Homo sapiens: one gene and its partners. The protein of the gene in region 7 purifies or fractionates together with the protein of the main gene of each other region. This does not show direct contact. Each region holds a gene or a part of one and is shown on either strand. Other genes may lie near its edges. The genes, in order: NUAK2, PLS3, EXOSC10, ANXA6, TIMM9, TALDO1 and THOP1.

Evidence for each region.
Region 1: the proteins of THOP1 (region 7) and NUAK2 purify together in Homo sapiens (co-immunoprecipitation; one large-scale study listed by IntAct). This does not show direct contact.
Region 2: the proteins of THOP1 (region 7) and PLS3 fractionate together in Homo sapiens (co-fractionation; one large-scale study listed by BioGRID). This does not show direct contact.
Region 3: the proteins of THOP1 (region 7) and EXOSC10 purify together in Homo sapiens (affinity purification with mass spectrometry, with the first as the bait; one large-scale study listed by BioGRID). This does not show direct contact.
Region 4: the proteins of THOP1 (region 7) and ANXA6 fractionate together in Homo sapiens (co-fractionation; one large-scale study listed by BioGRID). This does not show direct contact.
Region 5: the proteins of THOP1 (region 7) and TIMM9 fractionate together in Homo sapiens (co-fractionation; one large-scale study listed by BioGRID). This does not show direct contact.
Region 6: the proteins of THOP1 (region 7) and TALDO1 fractionate together in Homo sapiens (co-fractionation; one large-scale study listed by BioGRID). This does not show direct contact.

Annotation. Positions count from the first base shown.
Region 1 is NC_000001.11:205,301,563-205,304,745, forward strand, and holds the end of NUAK2 (NUAK family SNF1-like kinase 2), read right to left. Parts: intron 2,952-3,183; coding exon 1,888-2,951; 3' UTR 501-1,887; downstream 1-500. UniProt on the Homo sapiens protein: Stress-activated kinase involved in tolerance to glucose starvation. Induces cell-cell detachment by increasing F-actin conversion to G-actin. Expression is induced by CD95 or TNF-alpha, via NF-kappa-B.
Region 2 is NC_000023.11:115,641,174-115,644,673, reverse strand, and holds part of PLS3 (plastin-3), read right to left. Parts: intron 1,362-3,500; coding exon 1,166-1,361; intron 1-1,165. UniProt on the Homo sapiens protein: Actin-bundling protein.
Region 3 is NC_000001.11:11,093,370-11,096,869, forward strand, and holds part of EXOSC10 (exosome complex component 10), read right to left. Parts: intron 2,513-3,500; coding exon 2,389-2,512; intron 1-2,388. UniProt on the Homo sapiens protein: Catalytic component of the RNA exosome complex which has 3'->5' exoribonuclease activity and participates in a multitude of cellular RNA processing and degradation events.
Region 4 is NC_000005.10:151,130,280-151,133,779, forward strand, and holds part of ANXA6 (annexin A6), read right to left. Parts: intron 2,909-3,500; coding exon 2,815-2,908; intron 2,293-2,814; coding exon 2,197-2,292; intron 1,011-2,196; coding exon 952-1,010; intron 1-951. UniProt on the Homo sapiens protein: May associate with CD21. May regulate the release of Ca(2+) from intracellular stores.
Region 5 is NC_000014.9:58,414,032-58,417,531, reverse strand, and holds part of TIMM9 (mitochondrial import inner membrane translocase subunit Tim9), read left to right. Parts: intron 1-451; exon of another isoform or gene 452-486; coding exon of another isoform or gene 487-489; intron 490-3,500. UniProt on the Homo sapiens protein: Mitochondrial intermembrane chaperone that participates in the import and insertion of multi-pass transmembrane proteins into the mitochondrial inner membrane.
Region 6 is NC_000011.10:757,464-760,963, reverse strand, and holds part of TALDO1 (transaldolase), read right to left. Parts: intron 2,015-3,500; coding exon 1,907-2,014; intron 843-1,906; coding exon 711-842; intron 1-710. UniProt on the Homo sapiens protein: Catalyzes the rate-limiting step of the non-oxidative phase in the pentose phosphate pathway. Catalyzes the reversible conversion of sedheptulose-7-phosphate and D-glyceraldehyde 3-phosphate into erythrose-4-phosphate and beta-D-fructose 6-phosphate.
Region 7 is NC_000019.10:2,799,003-2,802,502, reverse strand, and holds part of THOP1 (thimet oligopeptidase), read right to left. Parts: intron 2,815-3,500; coding exon 2,712-2,814; intron 473-2,711; exon of another isoform or gene 1-472. UniProt on the Homo sapiens protein: Involved in the metabolism of neuropeptides under 20 amino acid residues long. Involved in cytoplasmic peptide degradation. Able to degrade the amyloid-beta precursor protein and generate amyloidogenic fragments.

The DNA of each region.
Region 1 (3,183 bases), on a different chromosome or scaffold from region 7:
CTCTGCAGGGGGCTGAGGGAGTTGGCGTACGGTGGGGGTGGACATTCCAGGCATTCTTTGCTTTCTCTGGGAGTCAGGCAGTGAGGACGGAGGGGGGAAAAGCTGCCCAGCACCAGAGTAAAGGGGATTTCTTAGGAGGGAGAGAATAAAGGCTGTGGGGGTGTCTTTACGCAGCAGGAGCAGGGCTCAAGCAGACAGGAGCAGGGGTGGGAGGAGAAGGAGGCAGGTGGTGGGGGCAGGGTGGGATAATCTGCCAAATCCACTTCTACTTTAGTGCCAAAGGCCGGAAGAGCAACTGGGACCCTGGGCCCAGGGCCTTCCCACCTGTGTGCTTAATAGGGTCAGGCCAGAGCTACTGAGCTCACGTTTGTTTTGATTCGGCAGTTTTTCTATTTCCCATCCCTGGCAGCCTAGGGGAACGAGTATTAGGAGAAGGCTCAAAAACCTGCTCAGCACCATCCCTCCCCACCTCAGTCACCAAAGAGAACAGCAGGGCCTGCTTCCAATCACCTTTCTGGTTTTAATGGTACTTTTTGGCCACGGAGGTCCATTAGGTAGAGACCATTAGGTAAAGAGACTCAAGAGTGTGGAGTGGAGTGTGGGGGGTTGTGGGAGGAGGTGGAAATAGTTGCAAAAATATCTCTCTGTACACAAAACTTAGATGTCATAGTGGATTTTCCCAGAACATAGCATTCACATTATTGAAAACAGCAAGATTCACTTTTCCTAAAACACAAAGCCAAGAACATAAAAATAAATATGGACATTCTAGAGTCCTGAAGGCCTAGAGAACACATCCATAGTCTGGACTTTAGAGCAGCTTAGAGGCAGAAGTTCTGAGTCACTGAGGTCCAAGGTGGAGTCCAGAGGAGGCTGGGCCCCTTGAGATGAAGTCCACACAGCAGGCGGAGGCTTTTCAAGTCTTTCAGATTCACAGCAGCAACTTCAGGAGGCTCAGGCCAGGTTTGGAGGATGGAAAAGGGAAGAGAACCATTGAAGAAACAGAGATTGTGTTCTCTTACTCCTAGGCTAAATAAGGAAGGGTTAGGTGGGGCGCGGTGGCTCACGCCTGTAATCCCAGCACTTTGGGAGGCCGAGGTGGGTGGATCACCTGAGGTCGGGAGTTTGAGACCAGCCTGACCAACATGGAGAAACCCTGTCTCTACTAAAAATACAAAATTAGCCGGGCATGGTGGCGGGCGCCTGTAATCCCAGCTACTAGGGAGGCTGAGGCAGGAGAATCGCTTGAACCCGGGAGGCGGAGGTTGAGGTGAGCTGAGATCGCGCCATTGCACTCTAGCCTGGGCACCAAGAGCGAAACTCCGTCTCAAAAAAATAAATAAATAAATAAAAATAAAAATAAAAATAACGAAGCGTTACTCCAGACCATTCCCAGGATGCCTCATGCACATTAGGGGTGCCACCATCCAGTTCTGGTGGTTGGTAGGAACGGGAATGTGTGTGTAAAGAGGTCTGGCCCCACTTGGGCAGGGAATGAGTAGGGAAGGAGCTGTCCTTAGAAGGCACCATGTGTACAGAGTATTCATGGGATGCAGGAGATGGGCCCTGGGAGAGTTCTCTTTCCAGGTCTCTGTGGCCCCCCCATGTACACAAGAAACAGGCAATGTGGACTCTGTCGCGGGCATTCCCGTTCCCCTCTCTTTAGTATCCTCTTCGTTCAGCAGGGCTGAAGACAGACACTGAACCCTTGGCGCATTTCATTTGCCTACTTCCCATATCCAGCCCTGCTCAGGGCTCCACTGCAAACCCTCTCAGCCTTCTGAGCTGGGATGCAGGTCCTGGGAGGTGGGGGAGAAGGCATCTCCCCTCGGGGTGCAACCAGCTGCATCTGAGAGCCTGACCGGGCTGGGGCAATGCCTACTCCACTCAGGTGAGCTTTGAGCAGACCCTCAGTGCCTGTCGGTAGGTCGCTGTCACCTCCTGGCAGTCTGTCAGGGAAAAGCAGCTGTCCCCCAAAGGATCCTGCCGCCAGCGCCTCAGGCAGCTTCCAGGGCCCTCTGAGGGGGGCTCCTCAAGCCCCGTGAGGTTGTCCACAGACACACAGCCCCGCAGTGGGGGCTCTGGGAGCCGTTCAGGCAAGTCCAGCTGGTCAAAGGACTCAGAGGACAGGATGCTGTCCTCGCTCACAGCCCCTGAGGGTCGGCTGGCCCGGGCCAGGGGGCGAGGTGGGGCGAGTTCATCCAGGGAGCCGAAGGTGGTGGGGGCCGCGAGCTCCAAGGCTGTCTGGGAGAACTTGCCATTGAGTTTGAGGATGCCTTTGCGATGGAGGAGCAGCCCTGAAGCTTGCGGAGGCTTCTGCTCCTTGGGATCCCCACTCACAAACACGTCGCCTGCGTCCAAGAGCTCCCCAGATTCACTGGGCTCGGGAGAGGAGTAGTAGCCAGACTCGCGCTGTCGGGGCTTCTTGAGAATGCCCTTCTTGGGGAGCAGGGGGGCAGCCTGCCCTGGGCTCGCAGGGATTGGGCTGAGCTCCGGAGGGTCCTCCTGTACCCCTTCTGCAGAGGCTGACACCTTCTTCTTGAGAATGCCCTTTGGCAGCTTGAGGTTGCTCTTGCCAGGGCGATGGGCAGTGTCATCAGCCGTGTCACTGTGGAGAGACTGGGCCATGTCATTCTCCTTGCGGGACTTCTTGAGCGAATGCTGGCGCTCCAGGCCAGGGGTGGTGCTTCCCCCACCAGGTGCATGCTGCTTGAAGAAGCTGCACACCTTGGCCCCATTCTCCAGGAGGGGGCGGGAGGAACGCCGGAGCCAGTCAGCCATGGAGGCGCGGGCAGAGTCACTGCCAGGGTGCCCACCCTCATGCGGAGCCTCCTGCTCTCCCACTCGGGTGGCGTAGCCCCAGTTGACCCACCAGTGACTGGCCACATCCTCCAGGGTGGCCCGGCGGGTGGGGTTCACCATCAACAGCCACCGGATCAGGCCACAGGCATCTGGAAGACAAAAGGCAGGTGCTTCAGTTTGGCAGCTCCCAGAATAGGCACTCCCTGTCCCCTGTCCCCAGCTCATCCCCTTTTGAGCTATGACACTGCATACTCCTGGGTCGGATGCGTCCCTTCCAACCTAGGGCTCTATACATGCCTTGGCCCAGGACAGCTCCCCAGTCCAGAGTTCCTGGACTGACTCCTCCAGCTGCCTCTCTGTCCTCTGACCCCTCAGGACTGT
Region 2 (3,500 bases), on a different chromosome or scaffold from region 7:
ATAGAAATATCAGTGGACACTCAATGAATTACTATTTGCATTATTTATTTATTTATTTATTTATTTATTTATTTTTGAGATGGAGGTTTGCTCTTGTTGCCTAAGCTGGAGTGCAATGGCACGATCTCAGCTCACTACAACCTCTGCCTCCCAGGTTCAAGGGATTCTCCTGCTTCAGCCTCCCGAGTATCTGGATTACAGGTGCGCACCACAATGCCTGCCTAATTTTTTGTATTTTTAGTGGAAACGGGGTTTCACCATGTTAGCCAGGCTGGTCTCGAACTCCTGACCTTAGGTGATCTGGCCACCTTGGCCTCCCAAAGTGCTGGGATTACAGTCGTGAGCCACCGCGCCTGGCTGCATTTCTTAATTTTTATAGACTACGCTTCACACATATATAATCTGGAAAAGGTAAACTCTGCCTTTCCAAAACTTAAAAAAAAATTAGTATATATTATCATTTGTTTCTTGAGGAGGTAAAGGTGAAAGGAGTTGGGGTTAGTTCCAGTTACATTGACTGTGGATGAATGAAACATAAATATATGCTAAATTTACAGGTCAAACTGAATGCATATGTGCACTTTTTCCTGGTGAGAGGATTAAAAAGTGGTCTAACCCTAAATATTAAAACTAAATACTGATTTACTAAGTGGCTTTACATTAAGCGACTCGACTACTTTTTATTTTTTTTATTTATTTTTTGAGATGGAGTCTTACTCTGTTGCCCAGGCTGGAGTGCAATAGCGCGATCTCGGCTCACTGTAACCTCCGTCTCCCAGATTCAAGTGATTCTCCTGCCTCAGCCTCCCGAGTAGCTGGGATTACAGGCATGTGCCACCACGCCCCAGCTAATTTTTTAATTTTTCGTAGAGACGGGGTTTCACCATGTTGGTCAGGCTGGTCTCAAACTACTGACCTCAGGTGATCCGCCCATGTCGGCCTCCCAAAGTGCTGGGATTACAGCTGTGAGCCACCGTGCCCGGCCTCGACTACTTTACTTTAAAAGTTCACTTGTATCGTACTTTCCTGCCAGTTTTTACTCAGCATCTGCCATCTACTTCTTGTAGATATAAAAAAACTTATTAAGTCTAGATTGTAAAATCATTGTGGCCTATGTATTTCTACTCTATAGTCCCACACATTCGAAATTGAGGTTTTTAGTTACCTTCTAATAGAGTCCAGTCAATATCCTGGTTCTCTGGCTTAGTTAGTGCTGGGTATTTATTAAACAGGTTAGCCACGAAAGCTAAGTTGAGTTTGGGGTTTCCACTGACAACATCAGCAGGGGTAACAAACTGTCTGCAACCTAATTTATCTGCTTGTTGAAGCATACTCTCAGCTCTCTTCAAATCATCTGTTTCCTGTTGAAACAAAATCGGAAGACTTTGTCAAAGGCCACACTAAAAATATAGAAAATTTCCCCACTGTCATAGTCTGGGTATACAGTTCTACTTTCTTTTAGCTAACATATGGTACTTATTATAAAATTGTTTTGAATGCAAAAAAAAAGGTTGGCCCTCTTGGAGATGCAGTACCTGTAATATACACTAGATGGCGCCAGATCACACAGCAAACTACTGAGTACATTTAACTAAATTGCATTAAGAAAGAAGTTACGTAAAAGGTTGGGGGAAACTCCCAGATTTTGTTTGAAAATCTGTAGAGAAAAATATACATTCACCATCTTCACTTTCTCTGGTTCCACTTTTCCTTTTTTCCTTCTCAATAGGAAAACAGCTTCAATTGTCCTTTTAAGCCACCTCAAGTTAAATATTCAGATATTTTCAGTAGAATTATGTTAAAATTTTTTTTCAAATGTACTTTATCTACAATGAATCTCAATTAATTATTAAATGTGAAAGGGTATTAACTGTAGTCCTACTTAAGTCTCCTTTAGAAAATGGTGTTCATTTTCTGTAAATTGTGGGTTCATTCTCTTCAACCTGGCTTATTTTATTTTATTTTGCTGATTTACTACTTTCTGCTTTGGAGTTTCTCCTTTTTTCTACTGGCTCTCAGCTGAACTTCACTGAGGCTTCTGGGTACTGTGCATTAAGTCAATGAGCTTCATGACAGAGTGGACTCCTTGGAACCCTGGAACCTCTGGGGCTGTGTTATGCAGCAGAAGGAACTAGAAAGGAGGGCACTGCTGGAGAGCGAGCTAGAGAGAGAGGAAGTTGTGCTGAGCTGTGGAAGTAGGCTTCCCTGGCTGAGGGAGAAGACAGACACCTTCATTCATGTCATGCTCAAATCCCAAGGGAAATGCTTGTGAACTGTTGCTTGAATTGAAGAGAAGCAGAGAATCTATTTCCACTGATTTCTTTTGAGCGTAGGGAGAATGGTGGAAGGCAAGACCAAGGATTAATCTCAGGGAATTGAAGGATTAAAAAAGTTAGGACGAAAGGAAGGGATTTTTTCCATTACAAAGACGAAGAGAAAAAAGTTAAATTGAAATAAAAAACAGGTAAAACTGTTCAGAGTTAAAATTAGGCCTTGGTTGGACGTGGTGGCTCACGCCTGTAATCCCAGCACTTTGGGAGGCCGAGGCAGAAGGATTGCTTGAGCCCAGGAGTTCGAAACCAGCCTGGCCAACATGGCGAAACCTCGTCTCTTAAAAAAAAAAAAAAAAAAAAAAGACCCTAAAGAAGGTGTAAAGCTGAAAAAGATGAAGGACACTGAAAACCATGAGAACAGCATGAGCAAAGGCACCTGGGTGGTGGTGGGAAGGAAGGTTGGGGTGGGGAACACAGACTTTTGGGGAAATAACACTGGCTAGATTTTAGAGCAAGATTTGTAGGGTGAGTGCCAAGCAGAACATTTCAGACTGAATTCTAGAGTCAACAGAAGAATCCTTGTCGGATTCTGAAGAGGGAAGAGACAAAAGAGTGTTTTAAGATCAATTGGAAAGGATTGACTAGAGAAGGGGTGTATCAGAATCGGTTAGCATACTGATGCCATTTACCCTGGTATCAGATCACATGGCTAGCCAACCCAGACAGCTCCCTTCTTGGACAAGATGGCCCCTCATCCCTACCAAGAGTGACCTGAGCTGAAGAGTTTTGCATTTAACATACAGACAGAAATATAAGCACACAAGTCAGTTACAAATTCAGTTCTGATAAGGGCAGCATAAAAATGGTTTAGCCACGTAAGGCACGGTGGCTCACACCTGTAATCCCAGCACTTTGGGAGGCCGAGGCGAGTGGATCACCTGAGGTCAGGAGTTCAAGACCAGCCTGGCCAACATGGTGAAACCCCATCTCTACTAAAAATATAAAACTAGCTGGGCATGGTGGTGGGCGCCTGTAATCGCAGCTACTCGGGAGGCTGAGGCAGGAGAATTGCTTGAACCCAGGAGATGGAGGTTGCAGTGAGCCGACACGGTGCCACTGCACTCCAGCCTCAGCAACAGAGTGAGACTCTGTCTCAAAAAAAAAAAAAAAAAAAAGAAAGAGAAGAAAAATGGTTTAGCCAATGTAATCCACTCCATCCTATGGCAT
Region 3 (3,500 bases), on a different chromosome or scaffold from region 7:
TGAAATATCAGCTTGGGCACTACTAACAGAGGCACAACCAGGTGACACATAGGATTATGGCAGGACTTGAAATCACAATATACCAGAAACTGCTGAAAGATTTGTAGGCATTTAGACTAGGGAAGAGATGACTTCATGGGACAGGAGGGCATGATTTAAATATTTTCAGGACTGTCAGATGGTTGAAGTCAGATTTGTTTTCCATGATCTCTATGTATTTCTGTGGAAATAACGTTCTGCCATAGAATTAGGCATAAATAGATAGTAAGCAAGACAGAATAATACACATCTCCTTCCAATCCTGTGAGCTGGAGGGGGTTCAGTAGATTTTGAGTAACGGTACAAATAAACTAAATTTTGGTTGGGTGATATAAATGCCTCTTCTTTTGCAACACAAATAGAATTTGCAAATCTTGTCAGGCACAGTGGCTCATGCCTATAATCCTAGTGACTAAGGAGGCTGAGGTGGGGGGGGATTGTTTGAGGCCAGGATTGTTTGAGGAGTTCAAGACCAGCCTGGGCAACACAGCAAGACATTGTCTCTATAAAATAAAAAAAAATTCAGCCAGACGTGGTGGTGCACACCTGCAGTCCCAGCTACTTGGGAGGCTGTGGTGGGAGGATCGCTTGAGCCCAGGAGTTCAAGGTTGCAGTGAGTTATGGTTGCACCACTGCACTCCAGCCTGGGTGACAGAGCAAGACTTCAGTATCCAAAAAAATAAAAACAGAATTTGCAGATCTGGAAGACAGATTCAGAATAAGGCACTTTATTTATTTATTAATTTTAAATAAAGACAAGGTCTCACTATGTTGCCCAGGCTGGTTCTGGAACTCCTGAGCTCAAGCAATCCTCTTACCTCGGCCTCCTACAGTGCTAGGATTACAGGAGTGAGCCACTGACCCTGGCCAGAATAAGGCACTTTAACTTTTTTTTTTTTTTTTGAGATGGCGTCTCACTCTTGATGCCCAGGCTGGAGTGCAATGGTGCAATCTTGGCTCACTGCAACCTCTGCCTCACGAGTTCAAGCGATTCTCCTGCCTCAGCCTCCTGAGTAGCTGGGATTACAAGTGCCCACCACAACACTCAGCTAATTTTTTATATTTTTAGTAGAGACAGTGTTTTACCATGTCCGCCAGGCTGCTCCTGAACCCCTGACCTCAGGTAGGTGGATCCACCCACCTCGGCCTCCCAAAGTGCTGGGATTATAGGCGTGAACCACCATGCCAGGCCACCTTTTTTTTTTTTTTTTTGAGACAGAGTCTCACTGTCATCCAGGCTGGAGTGCAGTGGCATGATCGCGGCTCACTGCAACCTTGGCCTCCCGGGTTCAAGCGATTCTCCTGCCTCAGCCTCCTGAATAGCTGGAATGACAGGTGTGTGCCACCATGGCCTGGCTAGTTTTTATATTTTAGTAGAGACGGGGTTTCACCATGTTGGCCAGACTGGTCTTGAACTCCTGACCTCAGGTGATCACCCGCCTTGGCCTCCCAAAGTTCTGGGATTGTAGGTGTGAGCCACCACACCTGGCTGGAATAAGGCACTTTAAAAACAGGCTTTCAGGCTCAGTGAGGTGGCTCACGCCTGTAATCCCAGCACTTTGGGAGGCCAAGACAGGCAGATCACTTGAAGTCAGGAGTTTGAGACCAGCTTGGCTAATATGACAAAACGATGTCTCTACTAAAAATACAAAAATTAGCCAGGAATAGTGGTGGGTGCCTGTAATCCCAGCTACTCCGGAGGCTGAGGTAGGAGAATCGCTTGAACCTGGGAGGTGGAGGTTGCAGTGAACCAACATCGCCCCACTGCACTCCAGCCTGGGCAACCAAGCAAGACTCCGTCTCAAAAAAAAAAAAAAAAAAGAAGCTTCCATGGGGCAGTAATATTTTTAAGACAACTGTAATTATTTTTTAGAAAAAATATACCAACTATTAGAAGGGAATGTTATTATAAGAAATGTTAAGCTTATTTCCTTTTCATTTTCTAAGGTGCCTGGGTTGCTCTGTCTATCCGTATATTTTAATAATACAAAGCTCTTTGTTAGTTACCATAAGAGTAAGGGAAGGCCGGGTGTGGTGGCTCACGCCTGTAATCCCAGCATTCTGGGAGGCTGAGGCGGGCGGATCACAAGGTCAGGAGATCGAGACCATCCTGGCTAACACGGTGAAACCCCGTCTCTACTAAAAATACAAAAAAATTAGCCAGGTGTGGTGGCGGGCGCCTGTAGTCCCAGCTACTTGGGAGGCTGAGGCAGGAGAGTGTTGTGAACCCGGGAGGCAGAGCTTGCAGTGAGTCGAGATCGCATCACTGCACTCCAGCCTGGGCGACAGAGCGAGACTCCGTCTCAAAAACAAAACAAAACAAAAAAAAGAGTAAGGGAAAATACTCACCACTCTCTCCAGAATTACATCATTGGCATCAACTAGTAAATCAAACTTGTCTTCCAGCTCAGTCACTTTACTTCGATCCTTAATGTTGCTGCGACACCCATGGTACTGCATTACTCTGCTCATGCTAAGGAAAGGAAAACCAAGGTTAGCTTGTAGATTTTTATTTCACTTGTTTACATTCTGTGAGAGAGAATGTTCAAATGATGTGGCTCAGACTGTTCCCAACACATCTTTTTTTTTTTTTTTGAGACAGTCTTGCTCTGTTGCCCAGGCTGGAGTTCAGTGGCATGATCTTGGCTCTCTGCAACCTCAACCTCCCGGGTTCAAGCGATTCTCGTGTCTCAGCCTCCTGAGTAGCTGGGATTATAGGCACATGCCAACAGGTCTGGTTAATTTTTGTATTTTTAGTAAAGATGAGGTTTTGCCATGTTGGCCAGGCTGCTCTCGAACTCCTGACCCGAAGTGATCTGCCTGCCTCCGACTCCCGGATTCAAGCGATTCTCATGCCTCAGCCTCCTGAGTAGCTGGGATTATGGGCACACGCCACCAGGTCTGGCTAATTTTTGTATTTTTAGTAAAGATGACGTTTCACCACGTTGGCCAGGCTGGTCTCGAACTCTTGACCTGAAGTGATCCACCTGCCTCGGCCTCCCAAAGTTCTGGGATTACAGGTGTGAGCCATGAGCCCAGCCTTTTTCTTTCTTTCTTTCTTTCTTTTTTTTTTTTTTTTTTTTAAAGAGACAGGGTCTTGCTCTGTTACCCAGGCTGGAATGCAGCAGTACAATCACAGCTCCCTGTAGCCTTGAACTCCTGGGCTCAAGTGATACTCCCACCTCAGCCTCCCAAGTAGCTGTGACTTGGGAGTGGTGCACCACCACTCCCAGCTACTTTAAAAATTTTTTGTAGGGATGGAGTCTCCCTACGTTGCCCAGGCTGGTCTTGAACTCCTGGGCTCAAGCGATCCTTCTGCCTTTGCCTCCCAAAGCACTAGGATTACAGGCATGAGCCGCCATGTCTGGCCCCTGATACTTTTTGATGAAACCAATAAAACTTGCACCCTAGCTGGGCGCAGTGGCTCACACCTGTAATCCTAGCACTTCAGGAGTGGTCAC
Region 4 (3,500 bases), on a different chromosome or scaffold from region 7:
GCTAGAGTACAGTGGCGTGATCACATAGCACTGCGTTCACTGAAGCCTCAAACCCAGGGGCCCTGTGCTCAAGAAATCCTCCTGCCTCAGCCTCCCGAGTAGTTAGGACTACAGGTATGTGCCACAGTCCCTGGCTAGTTCTATTTGTTATTTTTGTAGAGACAAGGGTCTTACTATGTTGCCCAGGCTGGTCTTGAACTTTGGGCCTCAAGTGATCCTCCCACTTTGGCCTCCCAGAGTGCTGGGATCATAGGTGTGAGCCACTGCATGCACTCAGCCTTGTGATGGGCATTCTTAATGAATTCATGCATACAGGCAAACATCTCTCTAGGGCTGAGCTGCCCAACCTCATTATGGCACACTGGTGGGCAGAGAATGGCCGACAGTCTACTTTGTCCTTTCGGAATGGCCAACCAGGGCCAGAAAGGCCCAAGCTCCTGTGTCTCGGGCCTCAGGCCTCTGGCAGCAAATAACTGCATTCATTTCCTCCAGTGCATCACAAAAATACCAGTTTCTTTGTGCGTCATATGTGTAAAAGCCTGGGAAGCTTTCTCAGAAACACACCCAGAGTGGAACTGTCACAGGGTGAGCATCATGAGTCTTAGCAGGCAAGGCCAAAGTGGTCTTGCCTACATACGCTGTATAAAAACATTCTGGTTAATACTTCTTCAAAGTCCGAGCCGCCAACCCATTTGGCTGGAGGGATCAGGTGCAGGCTGCCACCCTAAGTTCATCTGTTGACTCATGACGTCAGGCAGGTATGCAGGTGGCAGGACATGTGACCAGCAGCATTCCTGGCTCTACAGCTCACCTGCGACAGAGCACCTTCACCAGGGTCAGTCCTGTGGCCATCCCTGAAGGGCTCTCTTTGGCCACTGGATCCCAAGGACTTGTCAAAGACTCCCAATAGTCCTCTCCCCAAACCCCATTCACATCAGCCCCACCACGCACCTTCATAGCCTTGAAGAGCCTTTCAGCAAAATATTCCGGGGTGCTCCGGATACACTTCACTGTGAAGAGGGAGGAAGAGGTAGAGTTATTCTGGCTGCCTCAGAAGGGGGATGGGATGGCCTGACTCCCTCTTTGTTTCTATTCCTTGAGGGCCACCTAGCTCAATACAGGAAGAACCACCGTTCCTGATAGCTCACAGCCCCAGATCACCCCAGACCAACCCACTTTTACCGCACACCCAGGGAATAAACAGGAAATAATCTTGTTGAAATAATCCTTTTGAAGTCCATCACAAAGACCGCCTTTATCTTTCTAGTCCTTTTGGTTTTAACAGGGAATTGAGCTGGGGTGGGGGTAGGGTCTGGGGCGAAGGAGGAAAAGGTGTTTTTTAGACCTGCTACACCAGAAAGGTACTGGCAGCTGAATCATTGTGAATCCCACTGAATCACCGTGAGTCCCACTGGCTGACTACTTCAAACAGGGAGGGCAGGGGATGGCTCTGGGAGGGACGATAAAGGAGCTGCAGGTTTCCCCCAAGAAATACAAACACACAACATATCCCTGACTCAGACATGCTAACTGCTGGAATGCCAGAATTGGAAGGGCTTCTGGGGAGGCAATTAAGGCAGTCCATCCTTCCTGCCCCCACACCCTGCACCCCACTTAACAGATGAGGAAACTGAGGTCCAGCAAGCAGAAGTGACTTGCTCCAAGCCCATGTGGGAGAAGCCCTGGTTTGAATCTTGGCTCCACCACTGACTAGCCAGTTCCTCACATCCTCACGTTCTCAGTACCCCCAACTCATTACAAAACTACCCCTCAGGAAATGATCAGCCTGGTGAGACTCAGTTTCCTCATCTGTGAAATAGAGATCATGGCAGTGGCCACTGCTGGGTCTTTTTTAAAGATTACACACTCAGCACAGTGCCTGGCATGCACTAGATGCTCAACAAAAGTCAACTATTATGATCATCATTATCCTCAACCCAAGTTCAGAGCTCTTTGTCCCCCTGCCAGTGGTGGAGAAGGGAGCTGGAGGAAGTCAGTACCTGAGGCTCAAACCCCCTTCCCGTCCCCAGCCTCAGCCATGCTGCCCTGGAGAAACCTTTAGAATTCACGGCCCACATGGTTTTCTCCTTCCCAATTCTATACCATGTAATTCCCCTTTCCATTCTCAGCCCCTTGTTCCTAGGCCAGTGTTCCAGAATCCCCTAAAGCCCCCAGGAATGCAACGTCAGGACATACCTACGGCCAGCATTAGCTTCTCAAAGTCCCCAGACAGCTCCCCTCGGATGCTGGCTTCAATCGGCTTCCCTGTGGTCTTCAGATACTCATCGAACACTGCGTCAGACAGAGAGACAGGGAGGTTTGAGAGTGCCTCTGTACCCCCGAGAAGAAATGAGGACTTCAAGAGCAGGGGGGCACAGTGGCCAGGACGACTGTCCACCATGAAGCTAGGGCTGGTGCTATGATGGAGGCGACTGGGAGGTCACGCACATCACCAGCGCTGTGCAGATGAGCTTCATAGCTGGTGAGAGACTGTGTCTCATCCCCTAACATGGAGACAGGACTGGCACTGAGATGGAAGGCCAAGCATCCTGTTAATGACTTTGCTGAGGGACTATACAAACTGCTGTCTGATATTAGGTTGGTGCAAAAGTAATTGCGGTTTTTGCCATTCCTTTAAAAACGGCAAAAACCGCAGTTACTTTTGCACCAACCTAATAAACTCAGGACTAAAGTTTGGGTTGGGAATGAAGTAGGTATCATGTTCCATTAGTGGTAAAGAAAAGAAAAGAGATAAAGAAAGGCATTATTGGCATCAACCCAAGGGAGCAGCTTCAGGTCTTCTCTGGAGCTTACCCAACCGAAGATGCTGCTTGCTGCGATTTCCCAAGATGTAAATGAACTGGGCTTCATCTGTTCCCCATTTCAGTTCCCCTGCCTCGTATAGGTCCTGAAGGGGAAGAGGTGGCACTTGACTGAAAGAGGAAACCTCAGGAGACAGGACACACTGACCAAGCCACTCAGAACTGCTGCCTGATCCCTGAACACACGAGTAATTGGTAGCCTGAAGACCTTTGCAAATAAAACAGTCATGCATCATTTAATGATGGGGATACATTCTGAGAACTGCCATTGTTAGGCGACTTTGCCATTGTGTGATCATAGAGCACTCGCACACACCTAGATGGCATAGCCTACTACACACCCAGACTCCGTGGTATAGCCTATTGCTCCTAGGCGGCACACCTACCTGTTCAGCGTGTTATCTTACCGAATACTGTAGGCAACTGCAACACAATGGCAAGAATTTGTGTATCCAAACATAAATAATCATAGAAAAGGCACAGTGAAAATATGGGGTTATAATCTTATAGGACTAGCATCACATATCTGGTCCATAATCTTATGGGACTAGCATCATATATGTGGTCCATCATTAACCAAAACACCATTATGTGGTACATGACTATACCTATATGCCTTTCTTCCTTTCTTTCTGGAGAAACTCCTACTCAACCTTCAAGGCCCAGATTAAGTATTCC
Region 5 (3,500 bases), on a different chromosome or scaffold from region 7:
TACCTCCACTTCCTTTTTTTTTTTTTTTTTTTTAACAGGGTCTTGCTGTTTTATCTGAGCTGGAATGCAATGGCATGATCATAGCTCACTGCAGCCTTAAACTCCTTGGCTCAGGCAATCCTGCCTCAACCTCCAAGTAGCTGGGGGTATAGGACATGCCACCATGCCCAGCTACTTTTCTTTCTTTTCTCTTTTCTTTTCTTTTCTCTCTTTCTTTTCTTTTTTTGGAGAGAGAAGGTATCACTATGTTGCCCAGTGTATTAGTCCATTTTCACACTGCTGGTAAAGACATACCCTAGACTGGGCAATTTACAAAAGAAAGAGGTTTAATGGACTTACAGTTCCACATGGCTGGGGAGGCCTCACAATCATGGCTGAAGGCAAGGAGGAGCAAGTCACATCTTACATGGATGGCAGAAGGCAAAGAGAGAGAACTTGTGTAGGGGATCTCCTCTTGATAAAACCGTCAGATCTTGGGAGACTTATTCACTATCATGAGAACAGCATGGGAAAGACTTGCCCCCATGATTCAATTACCTCCCACCAGGTCCCTCCCACAACACTTGGGAATTCAAGATGAGATTTGGGTGGGGACATAGCCAAACCATATCACCCAGGCTGGTCTTGAACTCCAGAGCCCAAGGAATTCTCCCACCTCAGCCTCCCAAAGTGCTGAGATTACAGGCATGAGCCACGACACCTGGCCTTTTTCCTTTTCTAATGTATGCATTTAGTACTAAAACTTTTTCTCATGGCACTGATTTAGTTTATCACCATGTAATGATGTCAGCATATTACCAGTTCAAGTGAAGTATAGAAACCTTAATTGTCTACATACATTTAGAACCACAATAGATGGTTTTATAATTTTTGCTTCAACCGACAAACATAATTTAGGAAACTCAAGAGAAGTGTATTGTACCTATTACTGTGTTTTCCTCCTTGATGTTCCAGGACTACTACTTTTATCATTTTCTTCGTTTAGAAACTTGAGCGATTATTTTAGGTAGCTATGCTGGTAACACATTTTCTTAGTTTTCCTACATTTGAGAATGTCTTGATTTCTCCTTTATTTCTCAAGGTTGTTTTCACTAGATACAGGTTTCTGCATTGACAGTTGTTTTCCTTTAGCACTTGAAACATTTTGTGCCACTTCCTTGTGGCCTCCATAGTTTCTAAAGAAAAATCTGCTTTCATCCTAATGGTTTTACCCCTACAGGCAAGATATAGTTTTTCACTTGCTGCTTTCAATGGCTTTTTGTCTTTATTTTTTATTTTATTTATTGTTATTTATTTATTTATTTGCTACAGAGTCTCACTCTGTCACCCAGGCTGGAATGCACTGACATGATCTTGGCTCACTGCAACCTCTGCCTCCTGGGTTCAAGCAATTCTCGTGCCTCAGCCACCTGAGTAGCTGGGATTACAGGTGTGTGCCACCACGGCCAGCTGCTTTTTGTATTTTTTTTTTTTTTTTCAGTAGGGACGGGGTTTCACCATGTTGACCAGGCTGGTCATGAACTCCTGACCTCAATCGACCCACCCGCTTTGGCCTCCCAAAGTGCTAGGATTATAGACGTGAGGCACTGCGCTCAGCCTTGTCTTTAGTTTTCAGATGTTTGACTATTATGTGTCGATGTAGGTTTCATCGGGTTTATGCTGTTTGGGGTTTGTTCAGCTTTTTGAATCTGTAGGTTTATGTCTTTTGCCAAACTTGGGGAGTTTTCAGCCATTATTTCTTCCACTACTTTTACTACCCTACCCTTTTCTTCCTCTCCTTCTTGGACTCTAATGAGACAAAATATTCACTTTTTTATACTTCTACAAGTCCTTTGTACTCTGTTAATGTTTTTCATTCTGTTTTTCTCTGTAATTCAGGTTGAAGAATTCTATTTTCTGGCTTCCAATTCACTGATTCCTCTGTCCCCTCCATTCTCCTATTGATTTTATTCATTGAGTTTATTTTGGTTATTGTATTTTTCACTTCTTAAACTTTCCATTTGGGTCTTGATATCTTCTATTTCTTTGCTGAGACCTTCTGTTTTTTCATTTGTTTCAAGTGTGTTCATAATTGCTCACTGAAGTATTTACAAGGTGCTATTTAAAAATCTTTGTCAGATAATCCTAACACATATTAATCAATGTTGAGCATCTGTTGTCTTTTTTTAATTCAGTTTGAGATCTTCCTAGTTCTTGGTGTGATGAGTGATTTTTTAATATATTGTAGCCTGGACATCTTGCATATCATGTTATGAGGCTCTAGATGTTATTTAATCATTTTATCTGGCTCCTTTTGACAATGCTCCATGAGGGGAAGTGGTGGGAGGTACCACTTCATTACTGCCAGGTGGAAGTAGAAATTCATCTTCCTCACTCTGACACTTGAAGGGAGGGGCAGGGAGTTTCTTGTTACTGCTAGGTGGAGTAGGCATTCTGGCTCCTCACCAGGCTTCCACTGATAACTCCCTGGCTGGGAAGGACTACAGTGCTTTGTTACTCTCCCCATGTGGCCTCCACTGACATTACAGCAGGGTACATGGCCTAATTGTCATGAGGCAGTAATGCAAGTCCTGAATGTCAAGTAGGCCTCCTTAGATACCACCCCAGAGTAGATGGAGATGGGTACCTCATTACTGCCAATTGGGGTGGAAAGCCAGGCTCCCTGTGTGGTTTCCACTGACACTCGCTGGGGAGTGGGGAGGCTTTTCTGTGCATACGAAGGAAATGACATTTTTTTAAATGTCAGTAGTTATTGTGAATTTCTTTCTTTCTTTTTTTTCTTTTTTTTTTTTTTTGAGATGGCGTCTCACTATGCGGTGCAGGCTGGAGTACAGTGCTGCAATCTCGGCTCACTGCAACCTCCGCCCAAGGGGTCAAGCAGTTCTCCTGCCTCAGCCTCCTGAGTAGCTGGGATTACAGGCATAAGCCACCATGCCCGGCTAATTTTTGTATTTTCAGTAGAGATGCGGTTTCACTATGCTGTCCAGGCTTGTCTCCAACTCTTGACCTCAGGTGATCCACCTGCCTCAGCCTCCCAAAGTGCTGGGATTACAAGTGTGAGCCACCGTGCCCAGCCTAGTTATTGTGATTTTATAGGATAAGAAAAAAGGAGGAAAGTATAGGTATGGTTGAGACTGGTGGAATGGAATTACTGTTGATTGTATGTGTTAATCAAAAGCAGAATGTTAATTTTTTTTTGTGATGGTGGCATACACTTTGTCCTAAACTTGAATTTACTACTAGTTTCAACGAACTTCATAAAAATTAGTTTCAACAAAGCTTCATAAAGAATTTATGTTTTCCAGAGATACTTTAATAATTGATAAGCTAATAAAAATTTGCACATCCAGTTTATCATTTTTGTTTTGGTTATCAGAAAACTCTTAACTAAATAAAATGTATAGCATTTATGTTAGTCTACAGTGTACATGATTCATGTTTTCCTTTTACATGCTGTTTAATTTCTGTTTCAAACAGCTTTATTTTATACAAACCTTTTT
Region 6 (3,500 bases), on a different chromosome or scaffold from region 7:
CGCCTCCTGGGTTCAAGCAATTCTCCTGCCTCAGCCTCCTAAATGGGACTACAGGTGTGTGCCACCATGCCCGGCTAATTTTTTATATTTTTTAGTGGAGTCGGGGTTTCACCGTGTTAGCCAGGATGGTCTCGATCTCCTGACCTCGTGATCCCCACGCCTCGGCCTCCCAAAGTGCTGGGAGCCACCGTGCCCAGCCTAAAATTTCTTTATATTTTTGTAGAGACAAGGTTTCACTTTGTTGCCCAGGCTGGTCTGGAACTCCTGGGCTCAAGTGATCCTCCCATCTCAGCCTCCCAAATTGCTGGGATTACAGGCATGAGCCATCTTGCCCAGCCAGCATATATTTTATATAACAATAGTTTACTTTTTAAAAATCATGTAAACATAGGCTTGTGTTGATCAGGACAGAGGAAGGACAGAATCTGAATCTGCAGGTGCTAACTAGTGGCTTTTCTTCTCTGCTGAGTGGGTGGATGGTACTTCCTGGGAAATCCCTCATTTCTGATCACCAGCAAGTGAGGGAGCTGGCTCTGGAGCAGAGGGCAGATCTAGGCTGACATGAGCTGGTCAAGTCCAAGCTGTGGGCTGTGCTCCCCAGTCTGGCATTCCCCAGGGCTGAGAGAGTCAAACTTGCCTGATGCCATGTAGACCCTGCTCCAACAGAGGAAAAATCTCTGAGAGCTCCTTCCTTGTGGGGGACCACTTACTTTCCAGCCTGAATTCCTTCCCAGGTTGATGACAGCTTTATAAGAATTCGGTCCTTGCTGATCCCAGCTTCCTTGTAGAGCTCGATGAGCCGCCTGGCTCTGGCCACCATCGCATCTTTATCAAAGGAGAGCCTGTAGGAGCAAGAAGAACCCATCCCCTCAGATCACGCAGGTTGCCCACCACGCAGAGCAAGCTGGAGGCCGGGTGTCTGCCTGTCAGTTTTGAGCAGCACCACCGTGAGCACCAACCACTGCCCTCAACCTTCCCCTCACTGGAGGTTTGCAGAATGGCTCTGACAGCAACTCACACCCAGTCTCACAAACAGAGGTCCTCAGTGGGATCCATAGGCTATAATTTGTATTAAAAAACACTGGGCCAGGTGCCGTGGCTCACGCCTGTAATCCCAACACTTTGGGAGGCTGAGGCGGGAAGATCACAAGGTCAAGGGATCGAGACCATCCTGGCCAACATGGTGAAACCCTGTCGCTACTAAAAATACAAAAAAATTAGCTGGGTATGGTGGCGGGTGTCTGTAGTCCCAGCTACTTGGGAGGCTGAGGCAGGAGAATCGCTTGAACCCGGGAGGTGAAGGTTGCAGTGAGCTGAGATCACACCACTGCACTCTACACTGGCAACAGAGCGAGACTCTGTCTCAAAAAACAAACAAAACAAATCAAAACAAAAAACACTAGCAGCCGGGCACAGTGGCTCATGCCTGTGATCCCAGCACTTTGGGAGGCCGAGGCAGGTGGATCATGACGTCAGGAGTTCAAGACCAGCCTGGCCAAAATGGTCAAACCCCATCTCTATTAAAAATACAACAAATTAGCTGGGCATGGTGGCAGGTGCCTGTAATCTCAGCTACTTGGGAGGCTGAGGCAGAGAAACGCTTCAAGCCGGGAGACAGAGGTTGCAGTGAGCTGAGATTGCGCCACTGTACTCCAGCCTGGGTGACAGTGCGAGACTCCATCTCAAAAATAAATAAAAATAAAAATAAAAAACACTAGAGATCAGTTGCTAAACAAGGAGCTCTTGGTCATCACTACCAACTGTGGGAGAGCTCAAAATAAACCTCCTCTTGGGCCCTTGGGATGAAGACCATGGGTGGAGCAGCCCCTTGACCTCATGTTGGCATCCACGTGTGCAACTGTGGACACCTGACCAGCCCATCCAGTGCAGGAGCAAGCATCCTTACCTTGCGTCTACTTCTGTGGATACTCGGCCCGGAATCTTCTTTAGTATTTCTGCTCCAAACAACACAAAAAGTTTATCAATAGCATTTTTAATCTGGTCCTCTTGTGACCTGAAATTCAAAGGGAAAAAAAGCAGGTTAGAAGCTTCTGAGGTTCGCCAGGTGCGGTGGCTCACGCCTGTAATCCCAGCACTTTGGGAGGCCGAGGTGGGCGGATCATGAGGTCAGGAGATCAAGACCATCCTGGCTAACACGGTGAAACCCCGTCTCCACTAAAAATATTAAAAAATTAGCTGGGCATGGTGGCGGGTGCCTGTAGTCCTAGTTACTAGGGAGGCTGAGGCAGGAGAATGACGTGAACCTGGGAGGTGGAGCTTGCAGTGAGCAGAGATCGTGCCACTGCACTCCAGCCTGAGCGACAGAGCGAGACTCCATCTCAAGAAAAAAAAAAAGAAGCTTCTGAGGTTCAAGTGCACAAGACTCTACAAAATAAATTCTGTTATTTCTTTGCCAAATTTCCTTCCCTCCATCTTTTTTTTTCTCTTAAAACATTTTTTTATTGTGGCCAAATAATACATATAACATAAAATTTCCCATCTTATCCTTTTTTTTTTCCCCCAAGACAGGGTCTCCAGCTAAGGCTGGAAGCACAGTAGTGTGATTATGGCTCATTACAGCCTTGACCTCCCGGGCTCAAGTGATCCTCCTGCCTCAGCCTCCCAAGTAGCTGGGACTACAGCTGCACACCTCTATACCTGGCTAATTTTTTTGTTTTGTTGAGATGGAGTGTCACTCTGTCGCCCAGGCTGGAGTGCAGTGGCACAATCTCGGCTCTGCCAGCTCTGCCCCCCGCGGTTCACGCCATTCTCCTGCCTCAACCTCCTGAGTAGCTGGGACTACAGGCGCCCGCCACTGTGCCCGGCTAATTTTTTTGTATTTTTGGTGGAGACGGGGTTTCACCGTGTTAGCCAGGATGGTCTCGATCTCCTGACCTCGTGATCCGCCTGTCTTGGCCTCTCAAAGTGCTGGGATTACAGGCGTGAGCCACCACGCCTGGCCCATGCCCAGCTAATTTTTATATTTTTTTGTAGAGACAGAGTTTTGCCCTATTGCCTAGACTGTTCTCGAACTCTTAGGCTGAAGGGATCCTCCCATCTTGGCCTACCAAAGCACTGGGGTTACAGGCGTGCACCACTGCCCCCAGCCCACCATTTTAAAATGTATTCAGCACATTCACAGTTCTGTACAACCATCACCATCCATCTCCAGAGCTCTTTTCATCATCCCAAACTGCATCCCTCTATCTTTTGGCACTTGCAAAATATTATATTTTCTATCTCTTCAAAGTTATTGGACAGACACCCAGTGAAGTCCATGATTCTGTTCCAAAATCTGAGCAGCCTTGTTAGCCCACTACACACAGGAAGATCTTCAGCTAGACGCTCAGAGGTTAGAATTCTTGGGCCAGACTGGGTGCAGTGGCTCACGCCTGTAATCACAGCACCCTGGCAGGCCAAGGTGGGCAGACTGCTCAAGCTCAGGAGTTCGAAACCAGCTAGGGCAACATGGTGAAACCCTGCCTCTAAAAACAAATACA
Region 7 (3,500 bases):
GTCGGGAGGTGTTGGTGTCGGGAGGTGTTGGTGTCGGGAGGTGGGGGTGTCGGGAGGTGTTGGTGTTGGGAGGTGGGGGTGTCGGGAGGTGGGGGTGTCAGGAGGTGTTAGTGTTGGGAGGTGGGGGTGTGGGGAAGTGTTGGTGTTGGGAGGTGTTGGTGTCGGGAGGTGGGGGTGTCGGGAAGTGGGGGTGTCGGGAGGTGTTGGTATTGGGAGGTGGGGGTGTCGGGAGGTGGGTGTGTCGGGAGGTGTTGGTGTTGGGAGGTGGGTGGGTCAGGAGGTGGGGGTGTCCGGAGGTGGAGGTATCGGGAGACGGCGGTGTTGGAGGTGGCGGTGTTGGAGATGGTGGTGTTGGAGGTGGCAGTGTTGGAGATGGTGGTGTTGGAGGTGGTGGTATTGAGAGGTAGCAGTATTGGGAGATGTGGGTATCGGGAGATGGCAGTGTTGGGAGGTGGCGGTATTGAGAGGTAGCGGTATCGGGAGATGTGGGTATTGGGAGATGTGGGTATCGGGAGATGGCGGTGTTGGAGATGGTGGTATTGGGAGATGGCAGGATTAGGTACTGGGGCCTTCAAGAGGCAGCTGGGTCATGTGGCCTCTGCCTTCAGGAATGGATGAATCCATTCATGGATTCATGGATGAAGGGACAGATGGGTTAATGTGGCAGAGGGCCTGGGGCTTTGTGAGGAGGAGAGACCTGGGTGGAACCGGCTCGCTTAGCCCCCTCCCCTTGCCATGTGACACCCTGGCCGCCTCAGGGCTCCAGAGTCCCCACCAGGAAGAAGGCCCTGGCCAGATATGGCCCCTCGACCTGGGACTTCTCAGCCTCCAGAGCTGTGACAAGTTAATTCCTTTTCTTATAAACTACATGGCCTTAGGTTTTCTGTTGTAAGCAGAAGAAAAGGAACTAAGACCATCGCAAGGCGTCTCCTGAGAAATGACGGACCACAAAGGGAAACAGGTCCCGGGGCAGCAGCAGCGGACAGCCCTGGAGACTGTCACCCAACACGCTAGCCACCCGCATGACGGTGTCACCTGGCCACATGGGACTCAAGCCACCTGCACGGGAGACCCCTCAGGCCCGACAAATGGAACGGCACCCCAAAGAGTTAGACACCAAAATCCACAAACATTCGAGTTTGCAGGATGGCAAACGTGAAAAGAAACAGGCAGCTGAAACGCCGACAAGAACAAAACTGGCTGAAACCGGCTGGAACCCACATGAGCCAGCAGAGTCTGTGCAGAACCAGCTGGCTGATGCCAACTGAACTTCCACCGCGCTTCATACAGACTTCCCCAGGATTCACACCCAGGACCCACGAGCTGGCACGGACAGATAACTGTGCGTGCCCAAGGACCTTCCAGACCTCCCCTTTCCTTCCAACAATCACCTGCTAATCCCAGAATCCACCTCTGCACCTTCTCTCATGAAAGTACTGCCTGAAAGCTGGCACAGGAGGCAGATTTGAGCTGGACGCCCAGTCTCCTTGGGAGTCACTTGCAATGAGAAGCTTTTGTTTCCTCAAATCCTTGGTGCCATGGCATTGGCTTCTAGAACATCAGGCACCGAGTCCTTCTGCTTGCTAACACGAGCAGGCAGGAGAAGCAGCCCCACGGGGATGGTGCGGGTGGCCGCGGGGACGGTGCGGGTGGCCGCGGGATGGCGTGGGTGGCTGCGGGAATGGTGCGGGTGATCAGTGCACCCACTGAGGGGCAGGCTGGGAAACGTGCTTTACGGCAGATTGTAGCCCGTCGTCTCTCCTGAGTGCCAGAAGCTGAGGGTAGGATGTGCTGCCCGAGACACGGGAGGGCTGAGCAAGTGGCTGGCAGCCAAGCTTGGCAGTGCCCGACCTGCGAGTGTTCCCTCAGGAAACATACGCCCAGGTGACCACACATCAAGCCACCTGCGGAGGCCTCCGGCCATGAGGGCCTTGTCCCCACCCACCACCTCAGAGGCAACTACATTCAGAGTCTAGAACTGGAGGTTATATTCTATAGCACCCATCAGAATATTCCGGCCTGCCTGGGCACGGTGGCTCATGCCTGTAATCCCAGAACTTTGGGAGGTTGAGGCAGGCAGATCCTGAGCCCAGGAGTCTGAGACCACCCTGGCCAACACGGCGAAACCGTCTCTACTAAAAATAAAAAAATTTGCCAGGTGTGATGGCATACGTCTGTAGTCCCAGCTACTCAGGAGGCTGAGACAGGAGAATCACTTGAACCCGGGGGACGGAGGTTGCAGTGAGTGGAGGTCGCACCACTGCACTCCAGCCTGGGCAACAGAGCAAGACTCCATCTCAAAATAAATTAATTAATTAATTAAATTAAATAAATAAAGGCAGGCAGGAAGTGGGGTCTCAAGGGAAAATTGTGGTTCCCTCAGGGCCATGGCTGAGACTGGCACCCTTGGCCACCCCGTCCGGCCTGGGCTTCCGCCACTGCCAGGGACATTTTCTATCAGGGTGGAATCTTGGTGGGACAGACCATGGCCCTCCCCAAGGAGGGCTCAGAGCTTTTGGCTGTAAACGGCCCTGGAGCGCTTCCGGTGAGGAAAGTCCTCAGCCCAGGGCGGTCAGGTCCACGTACTTCGGCCTCCCGCCGCCCTTCAGCACAGAAGCCCACAGGAGGAAGCGGCGGCCCCCGAGGGCCTGGCAGGCCTGCACTGAGTCCCAGGACCGATGGCCACCCGTGCCCCACTGCTCGGCCCCTACCTAGCTCCTGGAGCGTGAAGGGCAGGAAGGTCGTGTCCTCGTTCAGGTTCTTGTTGAAGTCGATGCACAGAAGGCTCAGCTTCTTCTTGATGCGTTTGATGTTCTGGAGAGAAAGGCGGGGCGTGAGGGGAGGGAGAGACCGGGGCGGGCTCCGCGGGGAGACGCAACGCCTGGGAACCCTCTCGCCGAGGGCTGAGGGATTTCCCCAAGAACCAGGCCGAAAGAAGAGGCAACCGAGGAGGAAAGAGTGAGACGGGAGGCGGAGGACAGACAGACACGGAGGCCACGAGGCTGCGCAGTGTGGATTTCAACACCAGCTGCGGCATCCAAAGCTGGGTGACCTCGGGCAACCTCAGGGATGTGCTCCGGTCTGTCAGGTGTGGCCCTGGCCAAGAGTGCTCCAGACCCTCCTATCCATTAAGGAATCACCTTCAGAGCCTGCAGCCTAAGCTTTTCAACATTCTTCTGAGACAGGGACTCGCTCTGTTGCCCAGGCTGGAATGCAGTGGCATGATCTCGACTCACTGCAGCCTCAACCTCCCAACTCAATTGATCCTCCTGCCTTAGCCTCCTGAGTAGCTAGGACTACAGGTACACGCCACTACACCCAGCTAATTTTTGTATGTTTGGTACAGACGGGGTTTCACCATGTTGCTCAGGCTGGTTTCGAACTCCTGGGCTCAAGCAATCCTCCCACCTCAGCCTCCCAAAGTGCTGGGATTACAGGCATGAGTCACCGTGTCTGGCAGCTTTTGAACATTTTACCCCTTATCTGGTAAAGCTGGTTTT